3 linked regions of the Homo sapiens genome follow. The protein of the gene in region 1 purifies or fractionates together with the protein of each later gene. This does not show direct contact. Each region holds a gene or a part of one and is shown on either strand. Other genes may lie near its edges. The genes, in order: CCDC117, OBSL1 and USP19.

The links.
Region 2: the proteins of CCDC117 (region 1) and OBSL1 purify together in Homo sapiens (affinity purification with mass spectrometry; 2 studies listed by BioGRID and IntAct, with this or other methods). This does not show direct contact.
Region 3: the proteins of CCDC117 (region 1) and USP19 purify together in Homo sapiens (affinity purification with mass spectrometry; one large-scale study listed by BioGRID and IntAct). This does not show direct contact.

Annotation. Positions count from the first base shown.
Region 1 is NC_000022.11:28,782,695-28,786,194, reverse strand, and holds part of CCDC117 (coiled-coil domain-containing protein 117), read right to left. Parts: intron 2,688-3,500; coding exon 2,550-2,687; intron 107-2,549; coding exon 1-106. UniProt on the Homo sapiens protein: Facilitates DNA repair, cell cycle progression, and cell proliferation through its interaction with CIAO2B.
Region 2 is NC_000002.12:219,554,512-219,558,232, forward strand, and holds part of OBSL1 (obscurin-like protein 1 isoform 1 precursor), read right to left. Parts: coding exon 3,673-3,721; intron 3,600-3,672; coding exon 3,312-3,599; intron 3,108-3,311; coding exon 2,832-3,107; intron 2,213-2,831; coding exon 1,943-2,212; intron 1,782-1,942; coding exon 1,509-1,781; coding exon of another isoform or gene 1,486-1,508; exon of another isoform or gene 638-1,485; intron 230-637; coding exon 1-229. UniProt on the Homo sapiens protein: Core component of the 3M complex, a complex required to regulate microtubule dynamics and genome integrity. It is unclear how the 3M complex regulates microtubules, it could act by controlling the level of a microtubule stabilizer.
Region 3 is NC_000003.12:49,110,683-49,114,403, forward strand, and holds part of USP19 (ubiquitin carboxyl-terminal hydrolase 19), read right to left. Parts: intron 3,603-3,721; coding exon 3,492-3,602; intron 3,412-3,491; coding exon 3,310-3,411; intron 1,948-3,309; coding exon 1,807-1,947; intron 1,721-1,806; coding exon 1,602-1,720; intron 1,367-1,601; coding exon 1,229-1,366; intron 1,132-1,228; coding exon 818-1,131; intron 684-817; coding exon 573-683; intron 485-572; coding exon 268-484; intron 182-267; coding exon 29-181; intron 1-28. UniProt on the Homo sapiens protein: Deubiquitinating enzyme that regulates the degradation of various proteins by removing ubiquitin moieties, thereby preventing their proteasomal degradation. Stabilizes RNF123, which promotes CDKN1B degradation and contributes to cell proliferation.

The sequences.
Region 1 (3,500 bases):
TTGGCTCTCTCCTGTATAGTTCTTAGTATTAGAGGATGGCTTTGGCTTATCAGAAAGGAGTTCAGGGAGGGGTTTCCAGAGAACAAGCTCCATGGAAGGACGGCTCCTAAGACATAAAATACAGACTTTTATCAAAAAATTTTAGGACATGAAAACAAAAGCTGTAGGTTGAAAAGCCAACATTACCTAGTATCTTAAGGACTGATGATAGCAAAACAGGAGATTTAGAACACACAAACTGATCTTTACTTTCTTTTTTTTTTTTTTTTTAAGAGATGGGGTCTTGCTGTGTTGTCCACAGTGGAGTACAGTGGTACAGTCATAGCTCACCGCAGCCTTTAACTCCTGGGGTCAAGCAATCTACCCACTTCAGCCTTCCCAGTAATTAGGACTACAGGCACATACCACCATGCCTGGCTCCAACTGATCTTTAGAAAGGCCCCTCAAATACATAACATTGCACACTTCAACATGTATATTTAACCAAATCAAGTGGTTGTAATGATGCTGTGATTGGAAGTATTTAAAAATCCAATATGAAAACGCAGAGCCCTTGATTGTTGGAAATTTTTTTAAGTTGTGGTTAATATTACATGTAGGCAGCTAGCTCATACTAAATCATTATAAATGAAAAGGAAACACTGGACAAACATGCTGAAAGTATCTCAGATGCCTTTTAGTATAGGTACAAAGTATAATGCTTTATGGGCCAGGCACAGTGGCTCATGCCTGTAATCCTAGCACTTTGGGAGGCCAAGCCAGGCAGATGGTTTGAGCCCAGGAGTTTGCAACCAGCCCGGGCAATGTGGTGAACCCCGTCTCTACAAAAAATACAAAAATTAGCTGGGTGTGGTAGCAGGTGACTGTAGTCCCAGCTACTCGGGAGGCTGAGGTGGGAGTATCACCTGAGCCCAGGAGGTCAAGGCTGTGGTGAGCTGTGATCATGCCACTACACTCCAGCCTGGGTGACAGAGTGAGACCCTGTCTCAAAACACAAAACAAAACAAAACAAAACAAGCTTCATGGTTAAGGCAAAATGACTATGTTACACACACACTGTGGCAGGGATGGTGTATGGGCCCAAAGACGAAGCAAAAATAAAACATAAAATAATGAGATACCCTTGGCTGGGCGCGGTGGCTCACGCCTGTAATCCCAGCACTTTGGGAGGCCGAAGAGGGTGGATCACAAGGTCAGGAGATCGAGACCATCCTGGCTAACATGGTGAAAACTCCAACTCTACTAAAAATACAAAAAACTAGCCGGGCAAGGTGGCAGGCGCCTGTAGTCCCAGCTACTCGGGAGGCTGAGCAGGAGAATGGCGTGAACCCGGGAGGCGGAGCTTGCAGTGAGCCAAGATCAGGCCACTGCACTCCAGCCTGGGCAACAGAGCGAGACTCCATCTCAACAACAACAACAACAAAAAAAACGAGATACCCTCAAAGGCTAGCTTCTGGAAAACTACCAAAAGCAGAAAGTGCTATATTTTAGGCTGGAGGGCAACGTGACCAGCTTACTTCTGGCTATTTACCCACCCTTAGGGATGGGTACTTAATTATAAGCTCAAGATAGGACCCTAATGCAAAACCTCTGTGATCAAAGACCAAATAGCAGCTGAACTTCTAGCACAAATCATCTCCACTGTATCCAAAGGTAATAATGCCTCACCTATCTGCCCTCACTGACTGGTGTCCTAAGAGGCTTTTTCAGATACCTGAAACTTGCCCTTATTGAGTGCCAACTCGATCTAAAGTCTTTCCTAGGCACTTTATAACTAACTTCCTTACTATTTTACATAGTGAATAATGACAATTTGAGATCACGGAGGCTTCACGGACTACAGGATTAGAGCTGGGCTAATCATTACTCAGGGGCCCCAGGCCACTTTACTTTTTAGGTTATTGTGTTTGCTTTCCAGTTTCCTCTCTTGTCCTCACAGTGTAGTCACAGCTCCCTGTTAGGAGTTTTGTTTGTTCTGCTCTCATTTGCTGTTTCTGCTTCTACTCTGATGATCTAGGAAACCAGATAACTGAGCTCATAAACTGTGTTTAGATTAAGAGCAAAACAGTTCTGCTAAAGGCCTGGAAGGACTATGCTATGAGCCAAGAATATGAGCTTTGTTTTGCAGTCTTTGCAGCAACTGCTTTCACTGTTGGGCCACTTTATTTTTTTTCCTAGGCCGCAGTGTTGTTCCTGGGTCACTTAGAAAGCCAGGTAAACAAGAGCCTTTAAAATGTGGTTCCTGTATCACAGGAACTTGAGAGTGGGCTCTCTTGCCAGTCATCTCATTTCCAAATAGCAGACTGCAGTCCATTTCAGGTCTTCAAAGGAACCAAAGAGTAAGTAGGCAAGGCAGCCACTTCCCCATACTTCAAACTCCTGCTTGTAAAGCACTTTGCTCACCCCTAATGAACTAGGAAAAAGCCAATCTCCAATTGCCTGGGGATCAGGAGATAAAAAGAGCTAATGAGGACAGGGTGGGCAGAATCTAGACATTGGGTCTTCCCTCCAAGATCATAATTAAATAGAAATCAGGTACCAAAACTTACATAGACTCAATCATTTTCTTTGTAAAAACTTCATCAAATTCCCTCTTCAAACCTGTTTTCATGGTATCAGAAAGGACAAGACTGGGGAGATGGTTAACATTTCTGTCAGCTTCAACTTCTTCATCTTCATCAATTATCCTAAATCAATTAAGGCAGCAGAAGAAAGAAAAAATATTTAGTCAAGCTATTATATATTCTAGTATTTGGACAAAATTTTAAAAATAAAAAAGGATAAAAGCAGTAAGTAATACAGCAATAGAACAAGCAAAAAATGAGGCTATACCTGAGTATAAAAGGTATACTCAGGCCGGGTGTGGTGGCTCACACCTGTAATCCCAGCACTTTGGGAGGCCGAGGCGGGCAGATCACCTGAGGTTAGGAGTTCGAGAAGAGCCTGGCCAACATGGTGAAACCCTATCTCTACTAAAAATAGAAAAATTTGTCGGGTGTGGTGACACATGCCTGTAATCCGGCTACTCAGGAGGCTGAGGCAGGAGAATCACTTGAACCCGGGAGGCGGAGGTTGCAGTGAACCAAGATCGTGCCATTGCACACCAGCGTGGGCAACAGAGCAAGACTCCGTCTCAAAACAAAAAAAAACTATACTCAGAGGGTTGTTCAACATTTCATTTAACGAAAAAGTTTTACATATAATCAAATCTGAATAATATTTCAGAGAATTATCACATAAACCAAAATTAATACTCAGAGGCAGTAAGTGAAAACGCTCAGTAGTTCTATGAGAAGAATTCACTTTAAAAGCACATACTTCGGGGCCGGGCGTGGTGGCTCACACTTGTAATCCCAGTACTTAAGGAGGCTGAGATAGGCAGATCACCTGAGGCCAGAAGCTCCAGACCAGCCTGGCCAACATCACAAAACCCTGTCTCTACTAAATATACAAAAAAAGGCCGGGTGCAATGGCTCATGCCTGTAATCCCAGCCCTCTGG
Region 2 (3,721 bases), on another chromosome or scaffold:
GCTGTGAAGGAGACACAGCCTGAGTCGGCCAGGCCCAGGCCATTGAGTACCAGTCGGTGACGGTGGCCGTCCGAGTGGATGTGACACTTGGGTCCTGGATACAGCTGTACTCCACCCCGGGCCCACTCCCCGGTCACACCTTCCTGGGACAGCTCCAGCTGGAAGGTGGCACTGCCCCCCTCACTGATGGTCACGTCCTCCAGAGGCCGCAGCACCCTCAGCTGCCTCGCTGGCCGGGGGAGATGGAGAGAGGGAGGATGAGGCCTCCAGCTCTGGGCAGGGGTTGCAGTCAATCCTCATCCCTTGGCCCTGCCTACACCCCTGAACACCCAACCTAAGGTCCTGACCAAAAAAGTTCGGAACCAGGGTGCAGGAAGAAAGGAGCACGGTGGACAGATTTGGCGGGGGGAGGGCTGTATCAGGGTTAGGAGATGAGGGCACAGGAAGGGGGAGAAGTGTGGTTAGGGGGTCGTGGAGTCTGGGTGAGGGGTGCTGTGACACTTGAAGGAGCACGGAATTTGGAGTCAGACACACTAGGAATGGAACCTCGCTCTACCACATAGTTTGTGTGCTATGTGATCTTTGGCAAATGGCCTGACCTCTCTGGACCCCAGTTGCCCCAGCTGTACAAGGTGAATAACATTGGGACACAGGTTTATTGTGATGATTTCTTGAATGAAATAAGTTAGAAGAGATGTGTCACAAATGACAACCATTCACCAAGCTCTGTGTAAGAATTTTCATGTTATCTCAGTTAATGTTCCCAGAGACACTTGAGACGGGGATCAACCCCATTTTTAAAATTTGAGACAGGGTCTTGCTGTCACCCAGGCTGGAATGCCGTGACATGATCATAGCTCACTATAGCCTCAACCTCCTGGGTTCAAGCAATCCTTCTGCCTCAGCCTCCCTAGTAACTACCATGCCCGGCTAATTTTTATTTTTTTTTGTGGAGATGGGTTCTTGCTATGTTGCCCAGGATGGCCTCGAACTCCTGGCCTCAAGGGATCCTCCTGCCTTGGCCTCCCAAAGTGTTAGGATTATAGGCGTGAGCCACTGCACCTGGTCTCAGCCCCATTTTTAAGGAGACTTGGCTCAAAGAGGTTAACTTGCATGAGGTCACATAGGAAACAGAGGGCTCCAGCTTTGGGTGGGAGGTGTGGGGTGCTGTTTGACAGCCATCCCTGCTACTTAAGTGGGTATGTGTATCCCTAGAATACATGCCTGAAGGATGCCCATGGCAAGTCTTTCTGGAGAATATTTGTGTTTATAGCAAAGCCGACTTGGAAATATGCAATGGAATGCAAAATCCACATGGACTTCTAAGGTAAATAAAAAATATTAGAAAAAGAAAAGTTTTGCTTTGGGCAAGCTGCTGCTGGGACGGCCATGGGTGACTTTTCTCAGCGATGAGGGGCACTTTGGTGGGGGCCTGAGGGACTCCAGGACAGCCAGAAAAGGCTGTGGTGTAGGGTGGGTAATGCATTAAGAGAGGACGGGGCACTCACGCCTCACGCTGAGCCTGGCCAGGGTGCGATCGTGGTGGCTCTCGCAGCCGTAGGTGCCCTGGTCGGCCAGTATGACACCATGGATGAAGAGGCGGTGGATGTGCCCATCCTGGGCCATGGACAGGCGAGAGTCGTGGGGCAGGGGCTGCCCACCTCGCACCCAGCGCACGGCCCCCGCTGCACCCACTCGGCCTGTCTCCACTTCGAGACACACATCCTGGCCTTCCTCTGCCCGCACATCCTGCAACCGCCGTAGGAACAGCAGCTCTGTCTCTGGTGGGGAAGAAGGAGGCCATGGAGTCTGGTGGGGTTGGAGGCTGGCCCCTTGCTCCATCCCACTGGTCTGTCCCTAGGTGGAGAGGCAAGGCTGCTGGAATCCTGGTTGGGAGTACAGGCACGGGACACAGAGTATCTCATCCTCATCAGGACCTAACCTCGAACATGGAGCCGGGCACTTGTGGCCGTGCTCCCTGCCCGCAAAGTCACGGTCCCTGCATCCCCCAGTTGGCAGCCTCGCAAGGTTAAGATGCGGCTTGAACCATTCTGGGCCATCTCCACCTGGGGCCCTGGAGTGACGACGGCCCCATTGCGCAGCCAGGTGACATCGGCATCTGGTGGGGAGACTTCACACCGGAACGTGGCATCATCGCCCTCGTGGACAGTGAGTGGTGTCAGCTCCGAGACCAGCTTCACCAGCAGTGGCTCTAAGGGGCACGGTAAGGCAGTGAGCTGGGCTGAGTCTTTTCTTCTCTCTCCTTTTCATCCCCTCCTCAGGATGCAGGCCCTCGTCCCCAGTCATTTAACAGACCTTCTGTGAGGACCTACTATGTATCGACCACACCGATGGCCCAAAGGACAAGATGCCAGCTCCCTGCCACTCCTTTTAGTCAGTTCCTCATAATCCTAGCCTAGCACCCCACCTTGGTGGCACCCTAATAATATCAATTACCAGGGACCCTATTTACAGCATTTACTTGTCACAACAGGCCTATAAGAAAAGCACTATCCCCTCTTTTCAGAGCCGGGGCTCAGACAGGTTGAACAACTTGGCCAATGTCACACAGCTACTGGGGCACAGAATCTAGGCTGGAACCTGGCTGGGTGGACTCTAGAGCCCCTGCTTTTAACCACTGGTTTATGCTGCTCTCAACATGAGGGTTTCTGGAAAGAGGAGCCCTGAGCCCCTATCCAAGTGATGGTCATGCACGCACTGGTTGGAGCCAGAAGCAGCAAAGCGGGGGTGGAGGAGTAAGGGGGCCCTAGAAAGTGGCAGATGGTCCTTGGGGTGCCACAGCCCACAGGGTGTGAGGGGTACACTGTTACCTTCCACGCTGACAAGGAAGATGCGGCTGTCCTGGGGCGCATCGCACAGGTACTCCCCAGCGTCCCCGCTCCGTGCCCCCTGCACCCGCAGCACCTGCCTGGCCCCGGCCTGCTCCAGCTGCACCCGCCCCTGGCTTGCCAGTCGCTCCCCGTCCTTGTACCAGCGTACAGGGCCCCCTGGCCCGGAGAGGTGCACCACCAGCTCTAGGTCCCCGCCTGGGGTGCTCCGAACCCTCGTCTGGGCTGCCTCGGGAGCTACCACCCGCACAGGGGGCTCTGTGGAGTCAGAGCTGGAGGTCACTGGGAGGGAGAGGCTCAGGGCTTTGAGGAGGGCACGGGGAGGCATGACGGGGAAGGTACTGAGAGAAGTGGGGCCAGGGATGGGCAAGGCATGCTGGAAAAGCAGGAATCCCGCAGAGTTTGGGGTGCCACTCTCAGGCTTGGTGCCACTCTCAGGCTTAATGCCCAGGCTGTACTCACCAGCCACCTGGACGGTGAAGCTGAGGCTTGGGGCTCCGGGGGCTGCTCCAGACTGGCAGGTGTAGAGCCCTGCATGGGCTGGGCCTGCAGCCTGGATGCAGAGGACTCGGCGGGGGCCCTCGGCATGGAGCTCTAGGCCCTCGCCCTCCTGCACGGGCCTCCCATTGTGGCTCCAGACCACGGGGGCGCCAGCCCGGGACAGTTCACAGCTCAGCACCACTGGCTCCCCAGGGGCCACACAGAGCGGGCTTGGAGTTGTCTCTAGAGCAAGGAACTGCACTGGAGGCTCTGGAGAAGAGAGGAAGGTGTCATCCCATGCTTGCCCTTGCCTCCCTGCCCTGGGTTGGCCAGGAGCACCCACCAGCCAGGATGACATTGAAGGTGATGGCCTCATGCCGGGTCTCACACAC
Region 3 (3,721 bases), on another chromosome or scaffold:
CCCACAGTTACCAAGGTCCACTGCTTACCTAACAGGGAACTCCACCAAGTCATTGATCTTGTCACGCCAGATAAAACTACGAAAGGAGAAGCGCTTGAGCTGCACGATGAGAACATTTGGCAGGCGCCATAGCAACAGCTGCTTGGAGGCCTCACGGTGCTGTTTGCACTGTGGGCAGTACCTGGTGGGGACAGAGATTGGGTCAGGACCAGCAAGTCTCTCTCTTCTCCATCCTGCCCCCTTATCTACTTGCTGCTCTGTTCTCACCAGGCCTCCTCGGGTGCCAGCACCTCAGGCCGTGTGAAGAGGTTGAGGCACTGGTCCAGGGTGAAGTGGCCGGCCCGGGCAGCCTCACCGGCAGAGCCTGGATCCTCAGCACATTCCAGCTCCTTGGAGGCTACCAACACAAACTCCTGCAAGCGCTCATTGTTCCGCCAGACGAGAGCCAGGCTACAGTCGTCACCCAGCTCCAGTGGGGTGTCTCCTGGAGATTCGCAGGGAGAGAGGTCATGCAGCTGTGGAGAACAGCCAGCTCAACCCACCCCATGGCTCCCACCCACAGCCTCAGACACCTTTGTCCTCTAGCCGCTGCTCTCGGTTGGATGAATCAATTTTATAGATGAAGAACTGGGGTGTGTGGGCATTCATAGCTTCACTTGGATGCTGGTACCCAGGCACAGCAGCTGTGTGAGAACATGATAATCAAAGCTTCCCTGCCCATCAGGGCCTCACCAGGCCCACCAGGCCCTAAACAACAGCCCCCTCCATCCTCCCTTATCCTCCTCCCCAGCTTCTAGAGCCTTTCACTGGATCTTACCTTCGGGTCGGGACACCCTCTCGCCAGCTGGCAAGGAGCCAACCTCAATGGGCCCACTGGCCAGCATCTCAGAAGAAATTCCACTGGTGCTGGGCACAGGACCCCGGTCAGGGGCTGCCCACACCCGGGGAAGCCCTGTGTCCCCCTCAGCCATAGGGGTCACCAGCTGGAGCTCAGGTGGCTGAATGGGGTCTCTCTCGCTGTCCCCAGCCTCCAGGGAACCTGTGGAGAGCAGTGTGGTGCAGCCAGGGCTCTGAGACTCCAAGGCCATGCGGCCTGGCTGAAAGGGTGGCTGGAATACACTCACAGAGTACCTGGCAACAGAGAACAACGCAAGTAAGACTCCTGACCAGCCCATCTAGCACCTCTGCCCCCACCTACACCACTCTAGTCCAACCACTGGGCACTTACCGGGCATAGCCCTCTAGCAACTGAGCGAGGCGGGCATAAGTGAGGCGTGAGGCAGGTACACTGACCAGGAAGGGGTAGCCAATGTTCTCAGGTCGGCAGAGGCCCTTGTGGTCAGGCCAGTGGGTTTTCTGGCAGAGCCTGACGGGAAGAGGAAGACAAGGATAGGCCCTTAGCCCCATCTCCTATGACTCCATACTGGGGGCTAGTCATAGTCCCTGGGAACTGGGTACGCCAGCCCTGCCTCCCCCAGAGCCTGGTAAAGTAGGGTGGCAAGTAGAAAGCTTAAGCATATGTGCCTTGGTGTGAAGGGAAGGAGCAGGGTGGCACATGGAAGGTGGAAAGAAAGGGTAGGGGAGACCATGGGGGTCCTCACTGGTTGCAGTAGCCCACACGGTAGCACCGGGTACAGCGCTTCAGCTTTTCATCCTCCGACTGTTGCTTCCGCTGGCAGGCTGCACACTTGGAGATGGGGACGCTGGGCACCTGGGGGCGCTAGGGTGGGTCGTCTGGCTCAGCAAGACCAGGAAGAAGTGCCCCACCCACCAGGGCGCTGTGCCATCAGGTTGGCCCCCACTCACCTGTTGCACCTCTAGCACCACTACCCGCTCCTTAGCCAACTCTGAGGATAGCAGCTCAAAGCAGAGGAGCGTATCAGATGGGGACACAGTGTCCAGTGAGTGGGAGGGTAGGAACACACGATGAAAACGATTCTTAATTACCTGGGGACAGAGAACACACAGATCCCACGTGAGGATAAGCCCTTTCCCTAGCCCTGCCCCAGAGTTTAAGAAGGCTTGGCCCTGCCTTGGGTCTATGTGGGCAGTGGTGAGGTCTGTAGGCCCAAATAGGCTTATGCCTCTGCTGGCACCTGTCTCAGTGCCCAATGCCATAAGGAGCCTGGTGCATCAGAGGGCCTGAAAGACCAGGTGTGAGGCAGATATCAACCACACCAGCTCTCCACACTGAGGGACTCTGCCCTGCTATAACTAGCATAGCCTTATAAGACTGTAACATATTATCATGGAGGGTCCACATTCAAAGAGCCTCCTCCCCACTCTTACCCCTAAGAAAACCAACACTGTCAGGCTAAAGGCTAGGAACCCCTGGGGAGAGCTAGCACACACAACTGGGATAAAAGGAGAGAGCAGCAGGATAGAGGGAGAGGCAGAGCGAACATAGGGATAGTCCTGCAGCTCAAGCTCCTTGTCTAAAAAGGGAAATGCAGTTGGGATCCACCACCACAAAGGGGAATAAACCCTGATAATGGCTAGGAACTGAGGGCACTTCTGTTGCACAGAAAAAATAACAGCACATCGCCTGTTTTTGTACAGTCACAGGCATACTCATGTGTATGTCTATTTTTATTTTATTTTATTTTATTTTTGAGACAGAGTCTCACTCTGTCACCCAGGCTGGAGTGCAGTGGCGCGATCTCGGCTCACTGCAACCTCTGCCTCCCAGGTTCAAGCGATTCTCCTGCCTCAGCCTCCTGAGCAGCTGGGACTACAGACATGTGCCACCACGCCCGGCTAACTTTTCCTGTATTTTTAGTAGAGGTGGGGTTTCACCATGTAAGCCAGGGTGGTCTGGATCTCCTGACCTTGTGATCCATCAGCCTTGGCCTCCCAAAGAGCTGGGATTACAGGCATGAGCCACCACGCCTGGCCCTATTTTTATTTTTTTATCTATTTATTTATTTATTTTTGAGACAGAGTCTCACTCTGTCACCCAGGCTGGAGTGCTGTGGTGCAATCTCTGCTCACTGCAACCTCCACATCCCGGGCTCAAGTGAGCCTCTTGCCTCAGCCTCCCAAGTAGCTGGGACTATAACACGTACCACCATGCCCAGCTAATTTTATTTCTTGTAGAGACAGTGTTTCACCAAGTTGCCCAGGCTGGTCCCAAACTCCTGGGCTCAAGTGATCTGCCCACCTCGGCCTCACAAAGTGCTGGGACTACAGGCATGAGCCACTGTGCCCAGCCCATGTGTATGTCTGTAGATGCCAATGACTGTACACACGTCTGTGGTGAGTACACACACACATCCACACATGTGATAGCCCAAGGAAGGACAAAGATACCTCCGCCAAACGCAGGTTCTCAGGCTTCACATGAACACTCTGAGAGAGGGAGTCCAATACTTCGCTCGCAGTGGAGTTCTCCTTGCTGACGCTCACCAGGAACTGTGGCAAAAAGGGCAGTCAGTGAGGGAGGTGGGCCACGTTCTCTAGAACAGCCCAGAGGGTAGGGGCTTACTCCTCACCTTGATGGGCTTGCTGTGGGGCTCTCGGGCAAAATAAAAGACAGGGAGAACCTTTTGCTTTTGTGGCAAGGGCACCGGCAGATAAAGAAACGGGTCAAAAGTGATGGAGACCTGTGGATGTAGAGGTGGCACTGGGTAGCTGCACACAGAGTGGGAGATAAGATGCTCATGCTCAGAGAGCCCATTCCGGGGCTTCTGATGGCTCTCAGGGCCCCCACAGCCAACCAGCA